Homo sapiens: one gene and its partners. The protein of the gene in region 3 purifies or fractionates together with the protein of the main gene of each other region. This does not show direct contact. Each region holds a gene or a part of one and is shown on either strand. Other genes may lie near its edges. The genes, in order: NDUFA12, UTP25, BMP2K, NUMB, PPP1R2B, REPS2 and PIP.

Region 1 (3,500 bases), on a different chromosome or scaffold from region 3:
GATCAAATAGGTTAATATTTGTAAAGTGTATAGATTAGTGCCCATGACTTATAAATGCTATCTATAAGTATTAAATAAATTAGGCAAATAACCCGCTTTTAAAACATATATGGTGAACATTTTCTCAAGTCATAAAATATTCTCTGTCTCTCTCTCTCTTCTCTTTTTTTAGAAATGGGATCCCCCGCTGTCCAGGCACGATCATGGCTTTCTGCAGCCTTGAACTCCTGGGCTCATGTGATCCCTGCCTCAGCCTCCCAAGTAGCTAGGACTACAGGTGCCTGCCACCATGCCTGGCTAATTTTTGCATTTTTTGTAGACATGGGGTCTCATGTTGCCCAGGCTGGTCTCGAACTCATGGCCTCAAGCGATCCTCCCACCTTGGCCTCCAGAAGTGCTAGGATTACAGGTGTGAGGCACCATACCTGGCCAAAATATTATCTATAGCATAAATGTTAATAATGCCTTAGTCTTCCATCATATGGATATGCCATGAGCTATTCCCTTTATTTTTGGTTTTGTTCTTTCCATTCTTTCACTGTTATAAATAAAGCTCTGATAAATATCCTTGTACATGAGTATTCATATCCTCATTTCCTTAAATGGAAATGGATCCACCAGGAGTATACATGTTTTATAAGTTTTTGATACCTGCTGCCAAATTGCCCTCTAGAAGGGCTATACCAATTTATATTCTCAGGATAAATATATTGAATAGTATATGAGTACTGATTTCTCTTTAAGTTCACTGATTCTGGGTTTTATTTTTTAAAATCTTTGCTAATTTAGCAAGTAAAAAATTATACCTTAATGTGCATTGCCTTGATTAAACTTCATTGTTTGCCACTATAATTTTTTCTTTGTTGACATCTCTTGATGTTTTTTGTCCAGTTTTCTATTGGATATTTGACTTTTTCTGATTTGTAATGATAGATGAACCTTTTTTCTGTATATTACAAATATTTTCCCCTGTTTCTTTTAGTCTTTAATCCTGTTTATAGTGTTTTAGGACATACACTTTTCAATTTTAAAAACAATTTTAATTTTTTGGGTACATAGTAGGTGTATATATTATGGGGTGAGATGTTTTGACACAGGCATGCAATATGTGATCATCACATCATGGAAAATGGGGTACCCATCCCTTCAAGCATTTGTCCTTTGTGTTACAAACAATCCAATTATACTCTTTTAGTTGTTTTAAAATGTACAATTAAGTTATTATAGACTATAGTCACTGTGTTGTGCTGTCAAATACTAGGTCTTATTCATTCTTTCTGACTATTTTTTTTTATACCCATTAACCATCCCCACCTCCCCCTAATCCCCAAACCAACCCCACTACCCTTCCCAGCCTCTGGTAATCATTCTTCTACTCTCTATCTCCATGAGTGCAATTGTTTTGAGTTTTAAGTATCACAAATAAATGAGAACATGCAATGTTTGTCTTTCTGTACCTGGCTTATTTCACTTAACGTAATGATCTCCAGTTCCATCCATGTTGTTACTAATGACAGGATGTTGTTCTTTTTTATGGCTGAATAGTACCCCATTGTATTTAAGTATCACATTTTCTTTACTCATTCATCTGTTGACAGACACTTAGGTTGCTTCCAAATTTTGGCTGTTGTGAACAATGCTGCAACAAACATCGGAGTGCAAAAGTCTCTTCGATATACTGATTTCCTTTCATTTAGGTTATACCCAGCAGCATCATTGCTGAATCATATGGTAGCTCAATTTTTAGTTTTTTGAGGAACTTCCTAACTGTTCTCTATAATGGTTGTACTAACTTACATTCCCACCAACGTGTTTGAGGGTTCCCTTTTCTCCGTATCCTCCCAGCATTTATTATTGCCTGTCTTTTGTATAAAAGCCATTTTAACTGGGATGAGATAATATCTCATTGTAGGTTTTTTTTACTGCTCCTTGTGGACCAGAGCGGTAGCCTTAATCTCAGCACTTTGGGAGGCCGAGGCGGGCAAATCACTGGAGGCCAGGAGTTCGAGACCAGCCTGGACAACATGGTGAAACCCCGTCTCTACTAAAAATAAAAAAATTAGCCCGGCATGATGGCATGCGCCTGTAATCCCAGCTACTCGGGAGGCTGAGGCAGGAGAATCACTTGAGCCCAGGAGGCAGAGGTTGCAGTGAGCCAAGATATCACCACTGCACTCCAGCCTGCGCCACAGAGCAAGACTCTGTCTCAAAAAAAAAAAAAAAAAAAAAGACCCAAGAGTCTGTTTTGCAAGTAAAACTCTCTGGTGTGGCAATCTGAAAGATATGATTTTTTTTTACCCCTTATTTAATAATAAAATAACAAGGGTTATATTTGCCTAGCAGACTATAAACATTTCCTTATTTCTTATAATTCTTTATAAACTGCCATAATGGGTATAGTTTATTATTTATTAATTCCCTGATTCTTGCATGTAGGCTTGCTAGGATAAATATTTTCAGATTTTGTGTATTGTGATAAAAATTATCTTTTCCTTTTTTGGAGCATTTTCCATTTCTCCATGAGCTCTTCACTTCCTCACTTAAGTAACTGAATAGGCATAAGCTTGGGACTATGGTTCCTTAAATATCATTTTAACCTTCCGGAGTCTTGACAGCAATTTTTTGAATAAAATTTTTCTTTAGTTAAGCTGACTCAGTGAGGTAAAAGTTAAATATTTCAGCTGTGCCGTAAGCTCACATAAAGCCCCTTGATAAGTGACAGCCTTGACTTTAACAGCTAATCCCTCCTCTGAGTGGTTAGTGGAGCCTGGCTCACCACTATCGTCTCATAAGGGCTTCAGCGCTCGTGTGCTCATATGAATGGTTACAGTTTATTGGTCCAGGTCACTTTCACTAATCCCCAGCTTCCTTTAGAGGATGTAAGACAGACACTGACCTAGCTTGTACAGCCTTCTGCATTCTTCATTGTATAAGCTGATCATGATACAATTATCTTTAGACATAAACATAGCAACTGTAATCATATTTTATCTCTATTCAGACTGGTTTTTAGTCAGTTACCTAGCTATATCTATCAATTACTGCTAGCAAATATTCTTAGGTTTACATAGCAACAAAAATTTTTTCTCATTAGCTTTAGTTTTAGTTATTCCACTGAAACATCCTCCTCTTGTCCTTTTCTCTGCAGCTAGATAATCACTTTTCCCCCCACCCCCGGGCTGCAGTTCTGTGGCTGTCTTCTCATTTTCTTTTCCCCCAATAAGGTCATCTCTGTCTTGTGAGCTCCAGGTCTTAGAGGCTGGGACAAATTCTGTCTTCCCTTCTTTCCCATGTAAACCCCTCAGCTTAGCTTCCTGCACTCTGTCCCACAAACTTTGATTCCTCCTTTCCCTGTCATTAGCAGCAGCATCGGTGGTCTCTTCCCTTTCAACTCCAGGTATCCAGCTTTTAGGTCTGATTTCTGGAACATATCCTCTTAAATTGTTAAGCACTTATGACTGAAATATTTGTGAATTGGGGGTCGATTTAACTTTTTTCTC
Region 2 (3,500 bases), on a different chromosome or scaffold from region 3:
ACGATGAAGATGGTGGTAGCGATGTCAGTGTGGAAGAAGAGATGGCTGCAGAGTCTACTGAAAGTCCAGAGAGTAAGTGTCTTTACTATAGGCTCATCATCTTTGCCAGAACTATAGACAGTTCATCTCATGAGCATGGTACCTTATATACTGTGTGAGTTGGATGAAAGGACATGAATCCAAAATAGGGATTTACCCTTGTTGGGTTTGATTGTATCTTTGAGAATCTGATGGAAACACAGAACCTTCTTAGCACAGCTAGGCAGAAATAACATTTTTGCTTGTAATTTCAGGGACTTCATCAGTACTAGTGAAAGACCTCCTAATACAGAGGAAGGAGAACACAGTTCTGTCTTTGTGACTGTCTGAATTTATTGAAGAGGTTACTGTTCTTCTCTTAGGGAGACCAAGTTTGATGGAAGATAGACATAAATATATATAAAAAATTTCAAACAGTAGATTTGCGATTGCATGGAACAGCTAGATGTAAGGTGTTGAAGAGAGGCAGAGTGGTTGAACACTGCCAGTGTAAATTAGGGAAGGCTTCAGGGACTCTGTGTCACTCAGACTTGAAGGTGACTTTTTTCTTTAACTTCAAAATCACCTTCATTGAGGTATCATTTACATACAGTAAAACGTATCCAATTTAAATATACAGTCTGACAGGTTTTGACAAAGGTATACATCCAAATCAAGATACAGAACATTTCCATTACCTCCAAAAATTTTTCTTATCCTTTTGCAGTCAGTTCCCCACCCTTGGCATCAGGCAGCCACTGACCCGCCTTCTGTCACTGTAGATTAGTTTTGCCTGTTCTAGAAATTCATATAAATTGAATCATACAGTATGACTCCTTTTGTGTCTAGCTATTTTTGCTTCTCATGTTTTTCTAATTTATTTGTGTTGTGCATGTATTAGTCACTTACTACTTTTTAGTTGCTGGAATAGCATTCCATTGTCTGAATATAGCTGGGTGACTTTTTACTCATTATTTTAATGCCTATTTTTCTTATAGCCTTATTTTTTTTTTATACCTTCTGGTATTATATATCATTCCAGGTATTTTAACTGATCAGTTTTACTGAGATAAAAATTCATTGACTTACACTTAGGAGTTTGTTTTGTTTGTTTCTATTTTTCTTTGCTTTTTTGGATTTTTAAAAATGAAAATTTTTTTATCATTATAAAAATAATATATATTTACTGTAAACATTTAAGAGGGTAATATAGTTACCCTCTATCCCTGCTACCCAGAGATAAACACCTTTAGCATTGTATATAACCTTTCAGACTACATTTTTATGATTATATATGAGTATGTATATATATTTATGTGTATCTGTATAATGGCCTTATACATTTCCGTAACTTCCTACATCTGTGACTGTGGATTCACATTAGCTTCTTAATTACATAGTATTCCATTGTAAAAATATGATTGTACCCCATTGATAGACCCTTTTTCCCCCAGTTATTTCTTATAATCAGTGCTGCTTTGAACATCCTCTCATGTACATCTTAGTGTACTATGTCTGGTTACTATTTTAGAATAAGTTCCTAGAACTAGAAGTGGGTATATTAATTCGAAATCTCCAGAGAAACAGAACCGGTAGGATATGTGTGTATATGAGAAAGAGATCTGGCTCACGCCTGTAATCCCAACACTTTGGGAGGCTGAGGCAGGCAGATCGATTGAGCTTAGGAGTTTGAGACCAGCCTGGCCAACATGGCGAAACCCCATCTCTACAGAAAAATACAAAAATTAGCCAGGCATGGTGGTGCATGCCTGTAGTTTCAGCTACTCGGGAGCCTGAGGTGGAAAAATCACTTGAGCCCAAGAGGTGGAGGTTGCAGTGAGCCAAGATGACACCACTGCACTGCAGCCTGGGTGACAGAGCCAGACCCTGTCTCAATATATAAATAAATAAATAAACGCTCATCCAAAAATACCCTCGCAGAAACATCCAAAATAATGTTTGGCCAGATATCTGGGCACTGTGTCCCAGCCAAATTGAGACATAAAACCCACCATCATGCATCATGTGTTGATGATTAGGCTTAATTTTGAAATCTATGTTTTCTACCTGAATTTACCTAAATATAAATAGTATCAATGAACGCTATTGTTGGTATAGCCTAAGGAAATAAATTTTGTCAACAGAAGTATAATTTGTGAGTAAATAATTTTATAAAATGTTTCTCAAAACTGCAGATGTAGCTTTATCTGCTGACCCTGAGGGAAAAGAAGATGGGGAAGAGCCACCGGGCACATCACAAACATCCCCCGAAGAGTTCACAGATGCAAAACACGAGTCACTGTTCAGCCTGGAAACCAATTTTCTGGAAGAGGAAAGTGGAGACAACTCTTCTTTGAAAGCCTCTCAAGGTCATAGCACAGTGTGTGTTATTTGAATTCACCAGGTGCTTAGTATGGAATTTGTGTACTAATACACATTGAATCTATTATTGGAACAAACAGCAATAAAAACAGTTTAGTGGCTAGATCTAGAGCTGGGAAAAATAATTCTAAAAGGTATTTTGTGTTTCTCAGTGTTTAGGGGTTGGACGGGACATTTAGGAGAACAAACAAGAATGATGGTAGGGAAGGCCAGCTTCCCAGGCCTCACATTTTCATTATTGGAGTCAGGGGAAGATTTCTGATTTTCTCCCCAAGTAGGGAAAGAGAAAGAAAAAGAGGAAAAAATACTTCCTCTACCCCTCACTTGCTGTTCCTTTTTGGAGCAGTAATTTTTCAGATTTGCAAGACCCAGGGGTGGCTAATCTGAGTGGTCTTTATTACCAGGGAGACCCTCAAAAGCCAAAAAGCCCTACCCTGTGTCTCCTGCCTCCCACAGACTCTTGACCACTCCTGTGACCAAATGGCAGTCACGTGGTCAAGACGTGCCTATGGCGGGCTTTGATGGGTTCCTGCTGTCTCAAGTCCAGTTTCTCAGCCAGTGTCTGGGTGGGCAAGTCAGGTTGGTCTCGTTCTGTATCCTGATTGCCTTCATTGATCTCATTGCCATTCTTCAACCCAGCTTTACCTTTAATGAAACAGAAATTTTAATCCTCATTTGACTCATTTAGTTCTGTTGGTTATTTTGCAGGAGAAGAAGTGACAGGTAGAATTTGTAGATTTTAGTACAAACTCCATTCTGAACCATTAAAACTTAGAAACTTTGGAGGAAACATTAGGAAGCTTGACTGTCCCATAATTTCTGTGGTTGTTTTGCTCATACAGATATATTAGCATCTAGAATTCTTATGTCCTGTTGTTCACTCTTAGATATTTAATACAAGATGCATTTCATTTGAAATTTTACTGTTTGGATGCTTGGATGGGTCATTTAACTTTGTTCTGTTTCTTATGAGTGGGACTGGGAGAGAAGGTTGGGTGGCTAGCTCAGAATACTAAAGATTACTTGGAGTGCAGATGCTATCATGTGGATCATTTGTTCAATTCAGTGGAGTATTGGTCATATCTGTGTGTCCCAGTGCA
Region 3 (3,500 bases):
AGGAGAGAGCAGAGTATAGGTCAAAGGCCAGTTTAAAGGTCCAGATCAGGCAGGGTGCGGTGGCTCATGCCTGTAATCCAAGCACTTTGGGTGACCAGGGCAGGCGGATCACGAGGTCAGGAGATCAAGACCATCCTAGCCAACATGGTGAAACCTCATCTCTACTAAAAATATAAAAATTATCTAGGTGTGGTGGTGCGCGCCTGTAATCCCAGCTACTTGGGAGGCTGAGGCAGGAGAATGGCTTGAACTTGGGAGGCAGAGATTGCAGCGAGCTGAGATCATGCCACTGCACTCCAGCCTGGCAACAGAGCGAGACTCCATCTCACACACACACACACACACACACACAAAAAGTTCAGATCAGTATTTGCCGAACTCTTTGTCATTTATCTACTCTAGTTAAAATTTTTTGCTTTATTCACATAGTGCTTTTTTCTTTAATAAATTAGTAACATTATTGTGTATAATAAAATTAAAACATATTATACATTTTAAACAAATAAGATCCACTAAAATATAAAGTATGAAATGTAAATAGTAATCTAATAAATTTGCTAAGTCCCCTAGTGATAAGAATGGAATAATTTTCCTCATTAAAAATCAGATATTCTGCTTGATAATTGCTTAAAGATACTGATGAGGCTATTGTACTAATTAGATGATTGCTTTTTTCCACTTTTGATGCTAACTAGCATAAAAAATGTCAAATCTAGTTTATTTAGTTGGAAAATAGAAAAGATATTAACTGTCTTCTCTGACGTAGCATATATATTGTGTATACTTCATATTCTAAAAGTCTGTCAGCTCCTGGAAGCAAAGTTATGTCACTGTTGAGAATGGGATGATGAATTGGAAATCTGTCTAAACTTCTGATTAGTTAAAAAGAAAGTTGGATATCCAAGGATTTGAGGCATACACTGGCATGCAAGGTGCTGATGCCTGTAATGTATATTAATTACTATAGCACTGTCTGCTTTATTCTCATTTGTAGTGATGCTATTCGACAAATCACAGGTTTGATACATTAGACACTTTTCTTTTAATTTCTGTGTAACTATTAAAAAATAAGTTATCACAAAAATCATCTTGCATTCCCCAGGTTAGGAAATATTGGGTTGCATATCTGGGAAAGTGCATAAGACTTGTTTTACTCCACTCCTATGAAATTTATGTATTTAAGGATGTGTTAGAAAAAATTATACACTCAGCCACTAAAGGTTAGAAATGTGGAACTTCATGTGGGAACATTGCTCCAGCCACACTTGGTACGTCAATGCTACTTCATTAATATTATACCTATTTAACATCAGATTGTATGTTGAGTATAGTATCTTCTGTAACAATTTAAAAAGAGCTCTAAACTAATGTTCCTGCTTATGACAAAGTCAGTGGAAGAAGAGAATTGGGGTTAAATGTTTGTCTCTCAGTGGATAAGGGCTATTTGAGTAGAATATAAGAAACCAAGTAGTAGTTCCTTAGACAGAGGGAAAGAGTCACTATCTTTGTTGGAATAATTATTTCCTTTTCTTTTCTACTATCTTTTGCTAAACTTTCTACTCTTCCACCATGTTAATTTATCTTTAGTATGAATATCAGAGAGTATTACTGTGTTATATTCCAATAATAGTTAAAATAAACATCATCTATGCATACGTTATCTTCTTATGATATAATTGCCCTGTTATATTAGTTATCTGTTGATGCCTAATAAATTATCTCAAAACTTAATGGTTTAAAACAGCAGTTAACATTTATTATCTTACATACTTTCTTTGGATCAGAAATTTAGGGGTGGCTTAACAGGGTGGTTGTGTCTGGTAAGGCTGGGTCGGCTGTCCTCTGAAGGCTTGGCTGGTGATAAAGGATGTAATTTACAAGATAGTTCACTCACATGGCTTTGGGCAGGAGGCTTCAGTCCCCTGCCACATGGATTTCTTCAAAAGACTGCTTGAGTTTTCTCTTTGCCAAGGCAAAAATTATTTTGAACAAGGAATTATTGATTCTGGTTTCTCCCTCAATAAGTGATCCAAGAGACAGAGCAAGGAGGAATCTGAAATGTCTTTTTAGACCTAGTCTCAGCAGTCATGGGCTGCTGCTTGTGCCATATTTCATTTGTTAGAATTGAGTCACTAGATCTAGCTCATGTTCAAGGGCAGTGAAATTCGGTTTCACCCTTCGAAGGGAGGAATGTCAGATAACTTGTAGACATTTTTTAATACCTGTTTAAACTAGGTTAAGGTGATAACCCTATTGAGTTACAGTCTGCCAATAGGAATCCATAAATTTATTTTGGGAATAGGAAGAGGGTGATTCATATAGGGAATCCGAAAGTTCTAAAAGGAATGATTGACAGACAGGAGGGGGGATGCCCATCTCTCTTTGAGTTTTACCCACTGTGATCTGTTTTTTTTTTTCCTTCAATTTTCTGGGTAAAAACATCTGATCTGTGTTTTAAGGAGAGATGGGACTCTGTCACACAGAGGCAGGCTCAGACTGGCAGTTAATGCATCCAGAATGGACTTTAAACTGAATTGTTTTTTAAATTAAGATACCTAAGTTCTATTTACTAAGCAAGTCTATTTACTTGTAGGTAACTTACTATTTATTTTCCTCTGTTATATGCTAGCCTTCAGTAAGTATTTAAGTATCCTATTCTTGGCTCAGATATGCTGAAGGGGCTTGGACTAAGGGATTAAATAGACGACTTTTGCCTTTCTTTTCTCTTCTAAGACCTGTTTGGTGGCAATGGCAATGAGCTCTCAACGGTTAGGTAAATTTAGGGGATCAGTTAAGACTTGTGAAATTGAGATACTACTTTGAACATTAGGATTCTCCCTTCATTACTACTGTTAAGAGGATTTGCATATGAATTATGAAAGGAACTTAATAGCTTTCTTACATTGTCTCGTTCTTATGCTATACAGTCATGCATTGCATAACAATGGGGACATGTTCTAAGAAATTGCATCATTAGGCAATTTTATTGTTGTATGAACATCATAGAGTGCATTTACACAAACTTAGATGGTATAGCCTACTACACATCTAGGCTTTATTATATAGCTTATTGCTCTTACGCTACAAACCTGTATAGCATGTTACTATATTTAGTACTATAGACAATTGTAACAGAATGGTAAGTATTTTTGTATCTAAACATAGAAAAGGTAAAATAAAAATATTGTATAAAGGATTAAAAATGGTACATCTGTATAGGGCACTTACCATGAATGGAGCTTAGAGGACTGGAAGTTTTTCTGGGTGGGTCAATGAGTGAGTCGTGAGTGAACGTGAAGGCCTAGGACATTACTGTACACTATTATAGACTTGACTTTATAAACACTGCATTCTTAGAACACACTAAATTTATATAAAATTTTTTTCTTCTTCAATAATAAATTAACCTTAGTTTACTGTGACTTTTTTACTTTATAAACTTTGAAAATTTAAAAACATTTTGACTCTTTGGTTATAACACAAAACACAAACATGTACAA
Region 4 (3,500 bases), on a different chromosome or scaffold from region 3:
TTGTTAAACTCCTAAACTCAGGCAGTCCTCCCAAAGTGTTGGGATTACAGGCATGAGCTACCGTGCTCAGGCTATCTTACGTTCTTTTAACCAAGATCAAAGTCTTCAATTACCTGAGTAGGACAGCAAAATCTTAATTATGGTAACTTGATTATATTAAGGTGAATTATAGTTAATTTGGAACATTTCTAGTTTAATTAGGGAAGAAGAGGGAAAAACTGTAGAATACTGCTTAGCTCTGAATAAAGGCAAAGCTGGGGCAACCAGGGACACAGAAATCAGCTAAATTTGTAACTTTATTTAAGATTGGCCTTGGTTACCTTTGACTTTGGAAAAGTAATAGTGATACTTTCGTCTAGTCACTTGTGCATATGTACATCTCAGGTACATTTTGATTTTATCATGTAGATAATTTGTGAAGGTTTATTTACTTAATTTATTTTATTTAAAGATGCCCAGGCTGGAGTGCAGTGGCACAATCTCGGCTCACTGAAATCTCCACCTCCCAGGTTCAAGCAATTGTCCTGCGTCAGGCTACCGAGTAGCTGGGACTACAGGGGCATGCCACTATGCCTGGCTAATTTTTGTTGTAGGTTTTTTTTTTTTTTTTTTAGACGGTGTCTCCTCTGTTGCCCAGGCTGGAGTGCAGTGGCTCAATCTTGGCTCACTGCAACCTCCGCCTTGTGGGTTCAAGTAATTCTCCTGCTTTAGCCTCCCGAATAGCTGGGACTACAGGCACACGCCACCACACCTGGCTAGTTTTTTGTATTTTTAGTAGAGATGGGGTTTCACCATATTGGCCAGGCTGGTATTGAACTCCTGACCTCGTGATCTGCCTGCCTCAGCCTCCCGAAGTGTAGATTTGTTTTTTGTTTTTTTTTTTTTTTTTTTTTGAGACAGAGTCCTGCTCTGTCGCCCAGGATAGAGTGCAATGGTGCAATCTTGGCTTACTGCAACCTCCGCCTCCTGGGTTCAAGCAATTCTCCTGCCTCAGCCTCTCAAGTAGCTGGGATTACAGGTGCCAACTAGCATGCCCAGCTAACTTTTTTGTATTTTTAGTAGAGACGGGATTTCACCGTGTTGCTCAGGCTAGTCTTGAACTCCTGGCCTCAAGTGATCCTCCTGCCTCGGCCTCCCAAAGTGCTGGGATTACAGGCGTGAGTCACTGCGTTTGGTTTATTTACTTAATTTCTTTTAATATAAGCGACTTTGTTATAAGAAGTTTTAACTCCCAGTATTCTGTTTTGTTTTTTTTTTTAAGATGGGGTCTCGCTCTGTCTTCCAGGCTGGAGTGCTGTGGCACGATCTCGGCTCACTGCAACCTCCGCCTATCAGGTTCAAGCGATTATCCTGCCTTCCGAGTAGCTGGGATTACAGGCGTGTGCCACCACGCCCGGCTAATTTTTGTATTTTTAGTAGAAACAGGGTTCCGCCATATTGGCCAGGCTGATCTCAAACTCCTGACCTCAAGTAATCCACCTGCCTTGGCCTCCCAAAGTGTTGGGATTACAGGCGTGAGCCACTGCGCCCAGCCTAGCTCCCAGTATTCTTTAATCAAGATAAAACTTTTTTTTCCTCCAAACTAGTATCTCACAGAACCATAGAATAGCCTGCTGATGACAGAAATATATTTGTGACTGCCATGTTATGAAATTGAAAGAGCATCATTTATGTCCAGAGGCAGCATGACAGAATGGACAAAATTCATTATAATTGTGTGACCATGATTTTGAATCTTGACTTTATCGTTAATTTACTAATTGAGCAGTTTATTAAACTTCTTTTAGATTCAGTTTCGTCATCCATAAAATGGAGCTTATGCTATCCTCCACATCAGGGTGATGGTGAGAATTAAATGAAAAGCATTTTGTGTAGTGTATAGCATTTTGCCCATAGTGGGCACTTAACAAATTGTAATTGTTAATTATTAATAATTATCACATTAGATCTATTATAGACTTCTCTTTTAGGATGGGCTAATATTCCAGATACTGTTATTGTAAGCATTGTGGCAGCTAGGAAAACCAGAGTCGACTTTAAAACATTACAGGTATTTTAAGGCTGGGCGCGGTGGCTCACATCTGTAATCCCAGCACTTTGGGAGGCCAAAGTGGGCGGATCACCTGAGGTCAGGAGTTCGAGACCAGCCTGGCCAACATGGCGAAAGCCCGTGTCTACTAAAAATACAAAAATTAGCTGGGAGTAGTGGTGCATGCCTGTAATCCCAGCTACTCAGGAGGCTGAGGCAGGAGAATTGCTTGAACTTGGGAGGCAGAGGTTGCAGTGAGCCGAGCCACTGCACTCCAGCCTGGGCGACAGAGTGTGACTCTGTATCAAAAAACAAACACCAAAACATTACATATATTTTAAACATTTACTACTTCAGTTTGTTTTTGTGGTTGGTTTATTTTGGTGTATTAGACTGAAACATGGGGTAAATGAAGCTAATATTTTGTTGTGTGGTCACAGGCTGTTTATCTATCATATTATAGTCAGCCCTTATCTGTGTATTCTGCATCCTTGGATTCAACCAGCAGTTGATAGAAAATATTTGGAAAGAAAACCCAATAAAAAATAAAACAATACAAATAATACGAATAAATACAGTATAAGTATTTACATAGCTTTTACATTGTATTAGGTATTATATTAATAAGTAATCTAGAGATTATATAACATATATGGGAGAATGTGTGCAGGTTATATGCAAATACAGGTATCAGTGGGGGATTGATTCCAGGACCCCAATATACCAAAATCCATAGATGCACAGGTCACTTATATAAGATGGTGTAGTATTTACATATAACCTGCACACATTCTCCCGTATACTTTGAATTATTTCTCTAGATTAATTATAATACTTAATATTAGGTTGGTGCAAAAGTAATTACAGCTTTTGCCATTAAAAGTAATAGCAAAAACACAATTACTTTTACACCAACCTAATATGATATAAATGTTATGTACATAGTTATACTGTATTGTTTAGGGTATAATGACAAGAAAGAAAAGTAGGTACATGTTCATTACAACCATCCATTTTTTTTTCCGAATATATTTGATGCAAGATTGGTTGAATCCTCCTGTGTGGGACCCATGGATACAGAGGACCGACTGTACTATGCCATTATACATAAGGAACTGGGATATCTGCAGATTTTGGTATCCATGGGGTCCTGGATCGAGTCCCCCTCAGATACCAAGATGTGACTGTACCTGGTCCTCTTCCAAATACATGTGAGTTTTTGACAACAGTGGAAACCATTAATCCTACTACTAGAAAAAAACAATTGAGCATTATATTATTTACTGATTTTGTTATTAAAATCATTGCTTTTATTGAATTATTTTATTTACTGATATTGTTAATGATTTTAAATTAGTTCTAAATGCCAGTTAGAACCAGCTTATTTTTCCCTGGAGTTAATATATTTATCTTCGCAATTCAAGTAGAAATAGTTTTTATTTCAGAATTTAAGCCCTGTATCTTCCTTAGA
Region 5 (4,010 bases), on a different chromosome or scaffold from region 3:
AGGAACAAAAATATAGAGAAAAATTGCCTAAAAAGACAAAAATCAAGAATTATGGATGTTCAAGTGGGAACTGAGCAAAAACAAGGGGTAGAAAACTTATTCAAAGAAATAATAAGAGAAAACTCTCCAAAACATGAGAAAGAAAAATACCTAGGTACAGGAAGGTCAGAGAACACCAAACAGATTCAACCCAAATAAGAGTACTTTAAAGGATATAATAATCAAATTCTCAAGTCAAGGACAAAGAGATACTCCTAAAAGCAACAAGAGAAAAGCAGCAAATGACATATAAAGAAGCTCCAATTCATCTGGCAACAAACTTCTCAACAGAAACCACACAGGCCAGAAGGGAGTAGGATGACATTTTGAAAGTGCTGAAAGAAAGTAACTGCCATCAAAGACTACTGTATCCAGCAAAGCTATCATTCAAACAGGAGGGATAAAGTCTTTCTCAGACGAACAAAAGCAGAGAGAATTCAACACCAAACCCATCCTATAAAAAATGCTAAACGGAATTCTTTTTTTTTTTTCTTTTGAGACAGAGACTCAGTCTGTCACCCAGGTTGGAGTGCAATGGCATGATCTCAGCTCACTGCAACCTCCACCTTCCAGGTTCAAGTAATTCTCCTGCCTCAGCCTCCCAAGTAGCTGAGATTACAGACACGCACCACCATGCCTAGCTAATTTTTGTATTTTAATAGAGACGAGGTTTCACCATGTTGGCCAGGCTGGTCTCAAACTCTTGACCTCAAGTGATCTGACCACCTCAGCCTCCCAAAGTGCTGGGATTACAGGTATGAGCCACCGTGCCACATCGGGAATTCTTCGATAAGAAAAACCACCATCACCACCGCCACCACCATGCAAAAAGAAAACATTTGAGGTATAAAACCCACTGTAAGTACACAGAAAAATCCAGAATGCCCTAATACTTGTAAAGGTGGTGTGAAACCCACTTATAACTCTAGTATAAAGCCTAAAAGACAAATCAAAAACTTTAATAGCTACAGTAATCGTCAAGAGTTAGGCAATATAAAAATATATTAATTGAGACAATATAAAGTCAAAATGTGGTGGGGGGATAAAGTTTGTTTCTATTGTGTTTTCGTGCTCTGTAAGTTTTCATCTCTTTACAACTTGTTACATCTATAAAGATGTTTTTTTTTGTAAGCCTCATGGTGTCCACAGTACAAAAGAACTATGAAAAAGGGCGTCGGATTTGCTCCACCCCCCCCACCCCCACCACACCCACCACCCCCCACCCACCACTCCCCGCGGAGCTCTAGGCCGGCATCTCTCCGCGAGCCGCGGGTCAAGTGCCGGCGGCTAATGGTGCGCGAGGAGCCGCCACCCATTCGGCGTTGGCTCTGGCGTCGGGGTCGTTGTGACAACCGCTCCAGTAGCCGTTTCCGAGGCAGCAGGTGCGGCCGCTTTAGCCCTGAGCGGGCTCTGCGGCTGCCTGCGAGTCTCTGCTGTGCCGACCCTTCTCTTCGCGGACCCCACGCCAAGCAGCGACCCTGAGGCGACAGCCGGAGCGCCCGGCAATGGCGGCCTCGACGGCCTCCCACCGGCCCATCAAGGGGATCTTGAAGAACAAGACCTCTACGACTTCCTCTATGGTGGCGTCGGCCGAACAGCCCCGCAGGAGTGTCGACGAGGAGCTGAGCAAAAAATCCCAGAAGTGGGATGAAATTAACATCTTGGCGACCTATCATCCAGCAGACAAAGGCTATGGTTTAATGAAAATAGATGAACCAAGCCCTCCTTACCATAGTATGATGGGTGATGATGAAGATGCGTGTAGGGACACCGAGACCACTGAAGCCATGGCGCCAGACATCCTAGCCAAGAAATTAGCTGCTGCTGAAGGCTTGGAGCCAAAGTACCGGATTCAGGAACAAGAAAGCAGTGGAGAGGAGGATAGTGACCTCTCACCTGAAGAACGAGAAAAAAAGCGACAATTTGAAATGAGAAGGAAGCTTCACTACAATGAAGGACTCAATATCAAACTAGCCAGACAATTAATTTCAAAAGACCTACATGATGATGATGAAGATGAAGAAATGTTAGAGACTGCAGATGGAGAAAGCATGAATACGGAAGAATCAAATCAAGGATCTACTCCAAGTGACCAACAGCAAAACAAATTACGAAGTTCATAGAAGAGATTTGTTCAACACTGCAATTGTTTGTTAGATATAAACCCTGTGACTATAATACATTGCTTCTTGTTCTCCACAATTCATGACTTAAGTACCAAAATGCATACCAGTTATTATATATTGCCAAGAATTAAATGATAAACTTAGAGACTAATTAGACTGAAAATGCCTAATTGATATATATATTCTTATGCCTAGTACTTTACCACAAATACAGTGTAATATCATCAGTCCAAAACTGCATTACTTTCATAAGAACACTGGTTAATTTGTATAAGATATTATAGAGCTTTTTATGCTTTAGAAGTTAAGCAATATCTTTGGGGGGGAACTAATTTATTTTCATCACTCGAAATGTGGTAGCTCTTACAAAGTTTGTTGATTTGTTTTTTTAAAAATCAAAAGCCAGTTGAACAACAGGATATATAGACTTATAAATATTCAAGCTGAATCGTATTTTAACACTTCTCTTCAACTTGATTTGTCTGTTTAATTGAAAAGAATTGTAAGAGTTACTGTTGCATTTTCTGACCTACTACCTTTAAAATTCCTGTTGAGTTTCTTTGTGTTTACAAGGAAAGGACTGAACTTTTTCTCATCAAAACTAGCTTTTTTCCCCACAAATAAATTATCAGGTTAAACTTTCACCAATGTCTGCTCTGTTTTTTGGCAGGGGGTTTGTTTGTTTTTGTTTTTTAATGTTTTTGGTACACTGGGCAGACTTCAGAGCAGTTTTTTAAAAAATAAATATTCTAATGTAGCTATCTCGCCATTCCCTTTAAATACCTGTCTTAACCTCCTGCTTTTATTTCCTACTCCTTTCCACACATACACACACAATCTTTTACCTTTTAAAGGATCATTAAGATTGTCACGACATTAGGAACTCTTTCTGTCACTCTTCTGTCATTTGCTGCTGTGTGGAAATTCTTATTTTGACCATCAATGCCTATGAATTCTTCTAATACATGAAGAAAATAGATTGAGTAGCAGCAGTACTATAGGCAGGAAATACAGTTTAACTGCTGAATTTCTATGCCTCTCGATTTACAGATTGCTAATTAAATTGCTATTATTAGTTTGGCTTAATTAGACTTAAGAAAACAACCGAGGGTTTTTTTTTGTTTTTTGAGGGTTTTCTTTGCATGAGAATTGTATGTAACCAGTGATATGATTATTCCTGAATGTACAGACAGAAGTAAGCCTGGACATTTTTTAATTTAAAAACTTTAAATAGTCCCTGCTTTAAGGGAATATGATAATGTATACTATGACAAATGTACTTTATTCCTCTAACGCAGTAAGAATTATGTGGAATATTTTCCTTAAACGAAGTGCAGGAAAGCCCTGTGTGTCTTGGTTTGGTTATGGTTTCATTTCTAGCCATACAATTGATGAATCGTATACAATTTTCGTTAGTACCAAAATAATCTGTTATATGAACAGACTTCTAAAATAATGTCTGTATAATATATATTTATATATATAAAATAAGGCTTTTATTGAACAGCTTATCTTCCACTTGCAGGTTTATAGAAATATCAGTATTTCAAAATAAATAAAAAGTGGGAGAATTCTTTGCTGTTAGAAGAATGTGGTTATTATTTTGATTTTTTTAAATGAGATATATAATCAAAGTACTGCTGAACTATAAGTGCAGTATTCTAAACATTTCATCTAGTAATACCACTGATTTAGAAACAAAACTGTTTATCTCTGGTTTCTGAATTTAGAATTTTGGGATTACCTGTTTAAATCTGTCTTGGGGGATGTAGAGATTAAGTCTGTACATATGTGTGCACATATATTCATGCAACCTCTGATTTTGGTTTTCTTGTTTCTGAGTTC
Region 6 (3,500 bases), on a different chromosome or scaffold from region 3:
TCAGCCTCCCAAAGTGCTGGGATTACAGGCGTGAGCCACCATGCCTGGCCTTAACATATTTTTTAATAGACTATTTTTTTTTTTCAGAGCAGTTTTAGGTTCACAGCAAAATTTAGCAGAGTACCCATATATCCCCTGCCCCGACACACCCGTAGCTTTCCTTACTCTCAACGTCCCACATCAGAATAATAGAGTTTTTACAATTGATGAACCTACATTGACACCTCATTATTCCCCAAAGTCTATATATTAGGGCTCACTCTTGGTGTTGTACATTCTGTGGGTTTGGACAAATGTATAATGACGGTTCCACCATTGTAGTATCATACAGAATAGTTTCACTGCTCTAAAAATCTGTGCTCTATTGATTCATCCCTCCCTCTCCACTAACATGTGGCAATCACTGATTTTTTTTTTTTTTTTACTGTCCCCATAGTTTTGCCTTTTTTAGAATGTCATATAGTTGGAGTCATACAGTATATAGGCTTTTCACTTTGGCTTCTTTCATGTAGTACTATGCACTTAAAATTCCTTCATGTCTTTTTATGGTTTGGTGGCTCATTTCTTTATAGTGCTGAATAATATTCCATTGTCTGCATGTACTACAATTTATTTATTCACCTACTGAAGGATATCTTGGTTGCTTCCAAGTTTGGGCAATTATGGATAAAGCTGTTATAAACATCTGTATGCAGCCTTTTTTGTTACATGCAGGAGATAAGCTTTTGACTCATTTGGGTAAATAGCAAGGGGCATGATTGCTAGATTGTATGGTGAGAGTATATTTAGTTTTATAAGAAACTGCCAAACTGCTTTCCAAAGTGATTGTACCATTTTGCGTTCCCATCAGCAATGCATTGGTTTCTTTACAGAGTATTTATTTTCCTTTGCTGACTTATTTTAACAGCAGGATTCTAGCACTAGGTGGAAAACGTATATGAGTTTCTGATGTGTGTCAGGTACTGTCCTAGGTGCTGAGGTTATAATAGTGAATCCAACACAATCTCTGTCTTCATGGAGCTTATGTTCTCATGTGAATGTTTTTACACTTCAGAGTTTTTATTTGGTTGAGAAAAGACTTGAAATATAACATCCAAAAATAAAATGTCAGCCTGGTGCTGTGGCGCACGCCTGTAGTCCCAGTGCTTTGGGAGACCAAGGATGGGAGGATTGCTTGAGGCCAGGACTTTGAGATCAGCCTGGGTAACATAGTGAGACCCTGTCTCTACACAAAATAAAATAGCCGGGCATGGTGGCATGCGCTTGTAGTCCTAGCTACTCTGGAGGCTGAGGCAGGAGAATTGCTTGAGCCCAGGAGTTCAAGGTTATAGTGAACTATGATCGCACCATTGCTCTCCAGCGTAGGCAACAGAGCAAAACCCTGTATCAAAATAAAGTAAAATAAGCCTGTCAAACCCAAACCAAATACATGTCAAACCCAGACCTGATTCTTACCACACACTATGCCTTCTAGTAAAATTCTGGCCTTTGAATACCAACAAAATACTTCATAACCTGGGAAACCAACTACTCTAACGTTTGTTGCTCTGTCTTGAAATACTAAACAAAACCATTTACCTGTTCGTAGACATATTTTCTTTTTCTAGTTTAAAAGTATCCCATTCTGCCATTTTCCACCTAGTGCTAGAATCCTGCTCTTAAAATAAGTCAGCACAGGGAAATAAATACTCTATAAAGAGACCAAAAGACCTTTCAAAATAGGCTATGGCCAGGCCCAGTGGCTCACGCCTATAAATCCCAGCACTTTGGGAGTCTGAGGTCGGAGGATTACTTGAGCCCAGGAGTTCTAGACTAGCCTGGGCAAGATGGCAAAACCCCATCTACACACACACACACACACACACACACACACACACACACACACACACACACACACACACACCCCCGCTACCTACCTCTCTCTGGGGCATGCCTGTAGTCCCAGCTATTCTGGAGGCTGAGGTGGGAGGATCCCTTGAGCCCAGGAGTTTGAGGCTGCAATGAGCCATTATGACACCACTGCACTCCAGCCTGGGTGAAAGAGCCAGACCCTGTCTCATAAAATAAATAAGTAAATAAATAAAATATCTACCTTAAAGCAGCAAGTTTTGTATTTGATGTAATGAATTAACAGACCGCTTTATAATATCTATCTTTTAGGATAGTGTCAGTCTCTTGGAATGCTGTGCATGAGTCATCATTAAAATTGGTTTTCATTAAAAAAATTTTTTTAACATATACACATCTTATTGGAGTTTTCTTTTAAAATTCAAAAATGGGAACATTATTTTTTCAAAGCCAAGTAACAGAAGAGTATATAAAAAAGTCAATTTTGTGCATATCTTTTTACATTTTCTATGCTCATGTAAAACATACATGACTTATGTAATTATACACATATGCTCCAGATCTCATCTGTATTAATTTTTTAAATTATACTTTAGTTCTGGGATACACTTGGAGAACGTGCAGTTTTGTTACATAGGTATATATATGTGCCATGGTGATTTGCTGCACCCATCAACCCATCATCTACATTAGGTATTTCTCCTAATGCTATCTCTCCCCTAGCCCTGCACCCCTGAATAGGCCCCGGTGTGTGATGTTTCCCTCCCTGTGTCCATGTTTTCTCATTGTTCAGCTCCCACTTATGAGTGAGAACATGCGGTGTTTGGTTTTCTGTTCCTGTGTTAGTTTGCTGAGAATGATGGTTTCCGGCTTCATCCATGTTGGTTTTCATTTTTGTGATAGTTAATTCTTGGACATTAAGGGGAATAATTATAAAACACTGTTGCTTCCATATCAAGGGAAATCACTGAATGATTAAAAAAAACCCAATAAGTGTTGTCTGATTGTTTAAACAGCTTTCATTGAGGTAAATAAGTAAAACAAAGCTGTGAGAAGTAGGGAATATTTAAACAATTTGTGCGCATGCCCTCACCTTTGGGGAGAAGTCTTTTCTGAAGGCTCTCTTCTGATTTTTTGAAGCAACTGTTTAATCATTAAAGAAAATTATAGGTAAAAGACAAATTCTTGTGAACTTTCGCTCATTGCTAGATTATTAGGCAGAACTATTTTTTAAAAATTTAAATGAAACAACTTTATATTTTTACATCTTTAGATCATATCATTTTGTAACTATACTTTAGGGAAATAGAGGCCAGCATATTAAAACAGTAACTAGGGGCTGGGCAGGGTGGCTCATTGCCTGTAATCCTAGCACTTTGGGAGGCCGAGGCGGGCAGATCAGCTGAGGTCAGGAGTTTGAAACCAGCCTGGCCAACATAGCGAAACCCCATCTCTACTAAAAATACAAAAATTAGCAGGAGAATTGCTTGAACCGGAGAGGCGAAGGTTGCAGTGAGCTGAGATCAGGCCATTGCACTCCAGCCTGGGAGACAAGAGTGAAACTCTGTCTCAAAAACAAACAAACCAAAAAACAAACACACACACACACACACACACACACACACACACACACACACACAAACACACAAACC
Region 7 (2,581 bases), on a different chromosome or scaffold from region 3:
AGCCCCATAATTTCCCTCCCTTGCCCATCCTGTGCCCCTTGCCCTGTTCATGGCTCCCCCCTCACTCAAAGATTGGTCTCTGATCCTGGTGTTCTGATTCTCTCTTCCCACAATCAGTCGGAAGATCATAATAAAGAATTTTGACATTCCCAAGTCAGTACGTCCAAATGACGAAGTCACTGCAGTGCTTGCAGTTCAAACAGAATTGAAAGAATGCATGGTGGTAAGTAGAGGACTGGGGGCGTGACTTCAAAAGATAATTCAACTCCTTGATTATAAACATAATTTAATCTCTCACTTTAATAATGTACAGTGTACTTAATGAAACATTCTCACTTATGTTATGCTACTTGAGACTCAGAACAACTGTGGGAGCTTGGGACAGATGACTTCTCATTTTCCAGATGAAGAAGTTCGAATCCAGAGAAGTCTAGGATAAATAAGAAGGAAAGGAAGAAGGAATAGGAAGTGAGAAAGAGGGAAAAAGAAAAAAGTGTAAGAGCTAGTAGAGAAGCAGTTAGAGTCCTTCCAAGGTCCTGAGCATGTTTAGTTTAGGATGGAGGGAGGGGAGTTCTCAGAAGAGAAAGCAGCAACTCCACACCATAGGTTGAGGTGGGTGGGCAGAAGAGGACATGCAGGATATGACTCCTCCTCTCCAGTAAGCACTGAGCGACTCTACTGTCCTCTTGCCTTCTTCTGCTCCTTTGCTCTGGGTCACCAGAAGTGGACTCTTGTTCCAGCCTCCCCACCCTGACAAGGAGCTCGTAATCATCTCCTCCTTTTCCCCACGTTCAGAAGTCCAATCTCTGAACAAGGTCAGAGGTTTTCAAATGGTAATGTGTCTAAAACTCACTCGGGGATCTTGTTAAAATTCAGAGTTTCATTCAGCAGGTCTGGGGAGAGATTAGAACTTCTGGATTTTAACAGACGCCCAAGGTACACCAAGGCTGTGCCCAAAGGATCACATTTTTGAGCAGCTTGGGATTAGAGCATTATCCCTCCTGTCTAGCTGCCAAGGGCCAGAAGTCAAATAGACTTATGCAGTTATTAATCCACAGTGACTCTTCCCTGGGACACTGGTTGTGTGTCCTTTTCCTAGTCATTGATCTCAGATGTCACAAGCATGCAAACTGCCCCCACTACCTTTGTTCTAGGGCCAAGACCCATGCATCTCCCATCTCCCCTACTCCCTCCCCAGACCCTTCATGAAGGACACCTTCTATCAGGCAGCACAAGTATTTCCTTACAACATAAGTTTCCTAATTCAAATGAGACTTAAGGACAATGATTACATGTAAAACAACATTGAGAACATGAAGATTGCTATTCAGTCAACTGCATTCTAGAAATATCCCCACACCTGTAAAGAAAAATTCCTGGTCAATGAGCAAAGAATATCACAGCTGCTTTGTCAAATTTTTCTATTTTCAGTCCAAGAATCTGAGACATGTACACTAATTTGGGGTAGGAGCAAGGCTGAATCATAATTTTTCAACTCTGTATTTTGTTTATCACAAACACAGGTGAGAATGAGAATAAGAACATGTACATAATGTGTACATAAAATTTTTGTGAAAATGGTGGTTTCTGGTGGTAATAGTTAATGGTAGTGGTAGGTATAATAAGATATGTTTGAATCAATAAAATTACATGTGACATAATTTTGTGCTTTTGTGATTAATAAAAGTATGCTTTTAAGAATCATGCTAGTACTCTAAAATAAAGCAATCTTTTCAAAACCCACCTAAGCACAACTAAAAGAATAAGAAATCTTTAGACTAACTGACTTTGCAAACTAGAAATAATTTACAGGAAAGGAAATTTTGTTAATTCTAGTCAACAAATTTTTATTTGTGGCTTCATTTTTCAAAGTATAACTATTTTTAAATTTTTATTAAAATATATTTATATAACTATAAAATTCTTACCATCTAATCCTCATTTTTTATCATTTATAATGTTTTCTGTAACTGAATTTTTGAAAAAGTGAGGTTTAGACTCATATTTATTTATTTTAGAATTAGAATAGAATATACCTACAATCGTATATTTGAATATAAAGATTGCATAATCCTTTAAAGCTGAAGGAAACTTGTGGCAAAAACAATGCTTAAACATTTTTGTGCTACAGGCCATTTCGTTGGTTTCATGAAGTTTATGAAACATTTATCAGAAAATTGCTTCTAAATGTATAAAGTGCATTGGATTACAGAGAGAAACTACCACATTGAGTAACAGTGACTAACTTGTAAAAAATAAATTTGTGATGCAGTAAGGTATGTGTTTCTTTATGCACACATTAGCTGGGAAAGCAATACATTTAAAATATAGAAGAGTTGAATTTTATTCTATGAACACATTATCTGTGTGATGGATGTTGTTACTTAGCTTGAAGAAGTACATTAAACTGCACTGGTCTTTGGCAACACGTCCCACGTGCCATGCTAGGCATGCAACGGATTCTGATCTTTTATTGTACAAGTGGTGTAAATTCTGATTCATGACGATATGTTGTTGCTAATGTAACAGAAAGGTAAACAAGGCCGGGCACAGTGGCTTGTGCCTGTAATCCCAGCACTTT

The links.
Region 1: the proteins of BMP2K (region 3) and NDUFA12 purify together in Homo sapiens (affinity purification with mass spectrometry, with the first as the bait; one large-scale study listed by BioGRID). This does not show direct contact.
Region 2: the proteins of BMP2K (region 3) and UTP25 purify together in Homo sapiens (affinity purification with mass spectrometry, with the first as the bait; one large-scale study listed by BioGRID). This does not show direct contact.
Region 4: the proteins of BMP2K (region 3) and NUMB purify together in Homo sapiens (affinity purification with mass spectrometry; 2 studies listed by BioGRID and IntAct, with this or other methods). This does not show direct contact.
Region 5: the proteins of BMP2K (region 3) and PPP1R2B purify together in Homo sapiens (affinity purification with mass spectrometry, with the first as the bait; one large-scale study listed by BioGRID). This does not show direct contact.
Region 6: the proteins of BMP2K (region 3) and REPS2 purify together in Homo sapiens (affinity purification with mass spectrometry, with the first as the bait; one large-scale study listed by BioGRID). This does not show direct contact.
Region 7: the proteins of BMP2K (region 3) and PIP purify together in Homo sapiens (co-immunoprecipitation; one large-scale study listed by IntAct). This does not show direct contact.

Annotation. Positions count from the first base shown.
Region 1 is NC_000012.12:94,972,698-94,976,197, reverse strand, and holds part of NDUFA12 (NADH dehydrogenase [ubiquinone] 1 alpha subcomplex subunit 12), read left to right. Parts: intron 1-3,500. UniProt on the Homo sapiens protein: Accessory subunit of the mitochondrial membrane respiratory chain NADH dehydrogenase (Complex I), that is believed not to be involved in catalysis. Complex I functions in the transfer of electrons from NADH to the respiratory chain.
Region 2 is NC_000001.11:209,830,972-209,834,471, forward strand, and holds part of UTP25 (U3 small nucleolar RNA-associated protein 25 homolog), read left to right. Parts: coding exon 1-72; intron 73-2,213; coding exon 2,214-2,387; intron 2,388-3,500. UniProt on the Homo sapiens protein: Component of the ribosomal small subunit processome for the biogenesis of ribosomes, functions in pre-ribosomal RNA (pre-rRNA) processing. Essential for embryonic development in part through the regulation of p53 pathway.
Region 3 is NC_000004.12:78,873,850-78,877,349, forward strand, and holds part of BMP2K (BMP-2-inducible protein kinase), read left to right. Parts: intron 1-3,500. UniProt on the Homo sapiens protein: May be involved in osteoblast differentiation.
Region 4 is NC_000014.9:73,448,547-73,452,046, reverse strand, and holds part of NUMB (protein numb homolog), read left to right. Parts: intron 1-3,500. UniProt on the Homo sapiens protein: Regulates clathrin-mediated receptor endocytosis. Plays a role in the process of neurogenesis.
Region 5 is NC_000005.10:156,849,019-156,853,028, forward strand, and holds PPP1R2B (protein phosphatase inhibitor 2 family member B), read left to right. Parts: upstream 1-1,276; 5' UTR 1,277-1,544; coding exon 1,545-2,162; 3' UTR 2,163-3,510; downstream 3,511-4,010. UniProt on the Homo sapiens protein: Inhibitor of protein-phosphatase 1.
Region 6 is NC_000023.11:16,949,658-16,953,157, forward strand, and holds part of REPS2 (ralBP1-associated Eps domain-containing protein 2), read left to right. Parts: intron 1-3,500. UniProt on the Homo sapiens protein: Involved in ligand-dependent receptor mediated endocytosis of the EGF and insulin receptors as part of the Ral signaling pathway. By controlling growth factor receptors endocytosis may regulate cell survival.
Region 7 is NC_000007.14:143,135,077-143,137,657, forward strand, and holds part of PIP (prolactin-inducible protein precursor), read left to right. Parts: intron 1-117; coding exon 118-223; intron 224-2,581.